Linked DNA regions of Homo sapiens: region 2 is linked to region 1. Evidence: fine-mapped expression QTL. A gene starts in region 1. The other region holds a variant in brackets. All regions are shown on one strand. Distances are between the middles of the regions. Region 1 holds the start of MESTIT1 (MEST intronic transcript 1, antisense RNA). Region 2 overlaps LINC-PINT (long intergenic non-protein coding RNA, p53 induced transcript).

Region 1 (2,909 bases):
TTCTGGAAGTAAATCAGGCACATTTAGAAGATTCGTTAACTCTTTGGCTCCTGGGGGATTATGGCCAGCATTTTCTCTCTTAGACTTCCCACAGCGAATTCCTGGTTGGGCCAAGCTGATATCTTTGAGCTGACTTCTGTACTCAGGGTTCTTCCAAACAGGAATATGCTTTCTCTGCCTAAGATCTGGGTTCCATGCCCATCTCAACCTCAATCCCTCCTTCAAGGAAGTTTTTCCTAACTCCTCGGCCAGACATCAATAATGTCTGAAGGGAGGATTTCTCCCGAGTGCCAGACTTGGAATTCCTGTTGTCTTCAGGAGCTCTCCCTGGCGCTCCCTCCTTCCCCCAGGGCCTTTAAACTGTTTCTCCTCCAGTCTGCCCACTTGATCCATGTGGGTAGACATGTTCCATGGCCTTCAGAATAAGATCTTTTGTGGGGTACTCAGTCCATAAACAGAAAATTGCCTTCATCTTGGATGCTGGTGTTTCTGGCCTGGTGAGAATGAAAGTGTGGAATTTGTTTGTAGGACTCAAAGTTTCCATTAACAATAAATATGAAAAATATATAATGCAAAGGCTTTTGTTATTGTTATTATTAAAATAGGAAAGCCTTTACCTTTTTGGAAGAACCGATTTAGATTTTGCAGAGTAATTCAGTCTTTAAAAGGTAGTGGTAGTTAAAATAGGTAATCTTTGACTTGTAAAGAGACTAATTTAAATTTTGTTAAGTAACCAATTAAGGCCATAAAGAGTTTAAATCCATCTGTGGCTTCTCATTTTCTCTAGAACAAATTCCTAATTCCCTACGATGAAATTCTCTTGCTATCCTAATTTTTTGCCGGCTCAAAGGACTAACCGTTTTCCCCAAACACGCGGCCCTGAGCCTCCGGTGCTTTGCGAAAGCCGTCCCCTCCGGCTGGAATGTTCTTTGTCTCTCTGGTAAATGTCTATTCATCATTCAAGACCACCCTTCGCCCCTCCCCTTAATTACTTCCTCCCCTGTGCGCCCTCAAATTCTTGTACTCATTCAAGCAGTATTTATTAGGGGCCAGCTTTGTGGCCGGCACCGTGGCGGGCTCTGGGGCTACAAAAGGTGAATAATACTTGGGCTCTGCCTCTGAGGGCCTTACACGTTAGGGAGGAGTGGGTCAACTGCCACAAACGTCGCTAGGAAATTAAAAGGAAAATTTTACAAAGTGGCAGTTCTTGTCTGTCTTCCCCTCCAGATGGCCCGTGTGTTGTTTTCGGGCCGGGGCTATTTCTCATTTATTTCGCACCCCCGGTTCTTAGTGCCCTGTAGGTGCTAAATCAGCATTTGTTTCATGAGTGCTTTTTCTGGGGGCAACCAGACCCCTGCAGAAGTGTACCTGTGTTGTGCCAGAGGTTCTGATGATAGGCTTATAGGCGGTAGTTTCCTCAGTGTCCGTGGGTCGCCCCCGGTCCCGGGTTGGATGCCCCGCGGTCCAGCACCGAACCTTTCGGGGTGCAGAGTTGCAGAGCCGCGGAGGGCCCGGGCCGTGCGCAGCCGAAGGGAGGCCTGCAGCGCCCCCTCTGGATGCAGCGGGCACCGGCCGGCCGCCCCGCTCACCCGCTCGCACCCCACGTTTGTTCACCAGTATTTCAGTTTACGGTCAGAAAATGAACACAGACACTTCGTGATACTCTACACTTTTCAAAGGCGTAAGGGATGCCTTTTAAAGGATTATGGATTAGAAAAATTCCTCCCTCTTTCTTGTGCCTCTGGGCCCTTGCATTGTGATTCTATCTTACGTAAATAAAGGGGGCTTTGCTCTCCTAATTGTGCCCACTGTTCTGTGCAGCGCGGACCGGCGCATGCAGCGAGCGGGGCTGCGAGGGCGCTGCTGTGGCCAGGCGTCTGGCATGCTGACCACGTCGCGCTGCTGTAAAGGAAACCTGCCCCGCGCAGCGGCGGTGGCTGGAGCGGGAGAAACCGGACTTTGTGCAACTTTGGCCATAGTGGCCATCCCATGAATCTGTTTACTAGCTTGGTGGTGGGTCCAACAGAGCTTGTTGCTCCCTAGCCGCTTGCTCGTGCCCTTGGTGGTTACCGGTAGTTAAGCTTAGGGCGCATAGGGCCCTCGTGGCTCGCCACCTCTCACGGTTCAGTACCCACGCTTCGAACGAGGGATGGGAGCAGGCGCCACGGCCGGCACCCCAGAGCCCTGCTGCCCCTTAGTTCGAGCGGCCATCCTCCTGTGGGGCTTGTGGGCAGCCTGTGGGGTTTGTGGGCGGCCTGTGGGGTTTGTGGGTGGTCTAAGGAAAGAGTTGGGGCACTCAGGGGTCTGCTGTTTTTGCCCGTGGCCTTAACTCATCAGGGGAGGGTTTCTGCAGCAGAATCTCGGGCTCAGGGTTGGCGGTTAACGAGGGAGCAGCGGGGTCTTGGGGAGGGGGCTCGACACCCCTGAAGGTGCCCCCTAAAGGAGCCACTGTTAGAGGGGCACCCCATCTTTGTGGCCATGGCGGTGGTAGAGCGGCTGGGAGGGGCTCTGCGGCGAGCAAGGGAGCAGGCGGTAGGGGTTCTGCGGCGATGGGCGGGCTAGGGGCGGGGCGCGGGTGGGCTCTAAAAGTCGGTGCCCACTCGCTCCGCGCTGCCGCGGCAACCAGCACACCCCGGCACCTCCTCTGCGGCAGCTGCGCCTCGCAAGCGCAGTGCCGCAGCGCACGCCGGAGTGGCTGTAGCTGCCCGGCGCGGCGCCGCCCTGCGCGGGCTGTGGGCTGCGGGCTGCGCCCCCGCTGCTGGCCAGCTCTGCACGGCTGCGGGCTCTGCGGCGCCCGGTGCTCTGCAACGCTGCGGCGGGCGGCATGGGATAACGCGGCCATGGTGCGCCGAGATCGCCTCCGCAGGTGAGTGTGCGGTGGGAACGAGGGGGTGTGGCTGGCGGCCCTG
Region 2 (2,909 bases), 400 kb after region 1:
CATAAGCCCATGCGTGGAAACTGGCCCTGCCAAAAAAGAAACATTCTGAATCATTCAAAACCATTAAGAATGTTGGCTCTGACTTCAGAAAGGCAAGATAAACAGACCCGTGCCCAGCGGGAACTCACTTACTGGATGTCTCTGTGTTTTTAACTCATCGGTGCCTGAGTACTTCCCAGGTTCCTTCGAATGGCTTCAATGTTTAACGCTGTCACATTTGTACTATGAACTCCACTTTCATAAAGGCGGGGGCAGGGGGGTATTTAATTTGGTGCTAAGTGCTCATTAATCTTTTTAGTGTGGTCACCAGAACTGGCTTTTTTGCAGCCTCTAATCCAAAAGCAGGTTAATTCTCCTGCCCCACACAGGTTATAAAGTTAAGAAAATGTGGCACATATACACCATGGAATACTATGCAGCCATAAAAAATGATGAGTTCATGTCCTTTGTAGGGACATGGATGAAATTGGAAACCATCATTCTCAGCAAACTATCGCAAGAACAAAAAACCAAACACCGCATATTCTCACTCATAGGTGGGAATTGAACAATGAGATCACATGGACACAGGAAGGGGAATATCACACTCTGGGGACTGTGGTGGGGTCGGGGGAGGGGGGAGGGATAGCATTGGGAGATATACCTAATGCTAGATGACACGTTAGTGGGTGCAGCGCACCAGCATGGCACATGTATACATATGTAACTAACCTGCACAATGTGCACATGTACCCTAAAACTTAGAGTATAATAAAAAAAAAACATTAAATAAAAAAAAATAAAAAAAAAAAGAGTGAAAAAGTTGGGTCAAAAGATGAATCTGTTGTACATGTTGGTATATGTCACTGAATTGTCCTCTGGAAATGTGCCAAATCAATAAACTCATAAATGTCTTCTGAAAAAAAAAAAAAAAAAAAAAAAAAAAAAAGGAATAAAGCTTCCCCGCCCAGCCTTTAAAGTCCTTTTCCCCTAAACAATACTCCAAAATCAATGAATCTAGAGATTCTTTGCACCGGAGTGGTTTCCAAATCAATTGACCTCTAAGCTCCAAATGCATTTTGATTCTGCTTCTATTGATCTGAAATAATAAAGGCTATGGAATTGGGATATGGTTCTGGTTTCTAGTGGAGTTTACCTGAAAAACTAGGATACCTTTGACCATCCATATTTCTAGGAAGCCCTCTGACTATCCATATTTCTAGGAAACCCTTTGACCATCCATATGTGGCTACTTTTTTATACATACAGTACTCATGCAAAATAAACAGAAAAATAAAAGAGTAAATCCCAACTTCCAGGTGACAGTTTACAGCATATCTGGCAACTACGTGGTAGAGTTTAGTGGGCCTGCCAGAGTCCTTGTGTATGCCCCAGACATAGGCATACACACACAGAGCTCAAGAAAGCTGCTCAAGAAAATGACAGTCTTTTTTTTCTTTTTCTTTTTCTTTTGGGGGGAACTTTCACTGGTATAGAACTAACTGGGCACATAATGGGTAAGGACAAACACTGAAACTTTTTTTTTTTAAGTTAAAAAATTCCAGCTGGGCATGGGGTGGCTCATGCCTGTAATCCCAGCACTTTGGGAGGCTGAGGTGGGTGGATCACCTGAGGCCAGGGGTTCAACACCGGCTTGGCCAACATGGCAAAACCCCATCTCTACTAAAAATACAGAAATTAGCCAGGCGTGGTGGTGGGCACCTGTAATCCCAGCTACTTGGGAGGCTGAGGCAGGAGAATTGTTTGAACCCGGGAGGTGGAGGTTGTAGTGAGCTGAGATCATGCCACTGCACTCCAGCCTGGGCG[C/A]CAGAGCGAGACTCTGTCTCCAGAAAAAAAAAAAAAAAAAGTTAAAAATTCCATGTTCAGAAAGCAAGAGACACGGTGTTATTTTCTCCAATTCTGAAAGCTCCCAGTGGTGACAGCATCGTTAGCCATGTGTAACATGTGCATCCAGGCAACTGACTGTCACCAGACTTCTCCATGGCCTTACTCAAACTGAGTAAGCTGGTAGTATTTCCTAAGAGTTGTCACTCAGTTGTGAAAACAGAGAGCTTTTTGTTTTTTGGAAAATCCTGATCAGCCGAAATGACTGGGTGGTCAGCCTTGCCCATCTTTTGGCTACTTAGATAAAGGCTTCTTTTCCCAGGCAAGGAGAGAGATGATGGTTAACTTGCTTTTTAGACTGAGGTCATTGCTATTCGCTGGTGTAATGAATAAGCTAGACGTTTAAAAACAAAACAAAACAAAACAAAAAACCTCCTTTCAAAAGCAACCACATTTTTCTCTTCTCTGGAAATGAACAGAACGCGTCATGAACAGAACACGTCATAATTTTTTAAACATCCATCAGTGCCCATGAAAAAAATTTTTAAAAATAATCTGAATCTCACTTGTTTATTGCCTACAATATCAATCAATGGCTTAGGTATCTCTCCGTGTTCTATTACTTCTCACCGCTCTTAATTCATGAGGTCAAACAGAATCTTAAAACATCATTAAAAAATTTCCTCCCTTTCCATGTCTCAAGGTATCTGTAAATGGACAATTTGGGTGTGCTGAAATCAAATGACTGACCAAGGCCCATAACTGTGATCACAGGTAAAATGTTTTTCTGCTTTGCCAAAAATCCGAGTTTCCTTTGCTCTCTCTGTCAAGCTGAAAGAGCCCTCCCAGACCGAGGGGCCAGGTGGAGAGGCCACTCACACCCGCCCTGTGCCGGTCTACCTTGGATGGCCTCACCAGGGCACGGTTCCCGGGGTGGTGACTCAGCTCTGGAGGACCACCTGCTGCGTGGGGGTTGCTGCCTAGCAGGTCACTGCCAGTCACGAGGGCAGAGAGACCCAAAGGATCAGAGAACAGCTCTGAGCAGGTCAAGGGCAGTGCCAGAAGGAAAGCCTTTGTTTACAGAG

The links.
Region 2: its variant is fine-mapped to the expression of MESTIT1 in visceral fat (GTEx, PIP 0.97).

Annotation. Positions count from the first base shown.
Region 1 is chr7:130,489,474-130,492,382 of GRCh38, forward strand. It overlaps MESTIT1 (MEST intronic transcript 1, antisense RNA), which reads right to left and starts at 1,504. Exons shown (of 2, transcript NR_004382.2): 1 at 1,369-1,504; 2 at 1-494. MEST (mesoderm specific transcript) reads left to right here and starts at 2,612. Exons shown (of 12, transcript NM_002402.4): 1 at 2,612-2,866. The coding sequence starts at 2,841. RefSeq lists a silencer at 1,440-1,649.
Region 2 is chr7:130,891,558-130,894,466 of GRCh38, forward strand. All of the region lies in intron 6 of LINC-PINT (long intergenic non-protein coding RNA, p53 induced transcript), which reads right to left. Among named protein-coding and RNA genes, the nearest start is that of MIR29B1, 15 kb to the left of the region's middle. The variant C/A (reference allele first, on the strand shown) is at 1,807.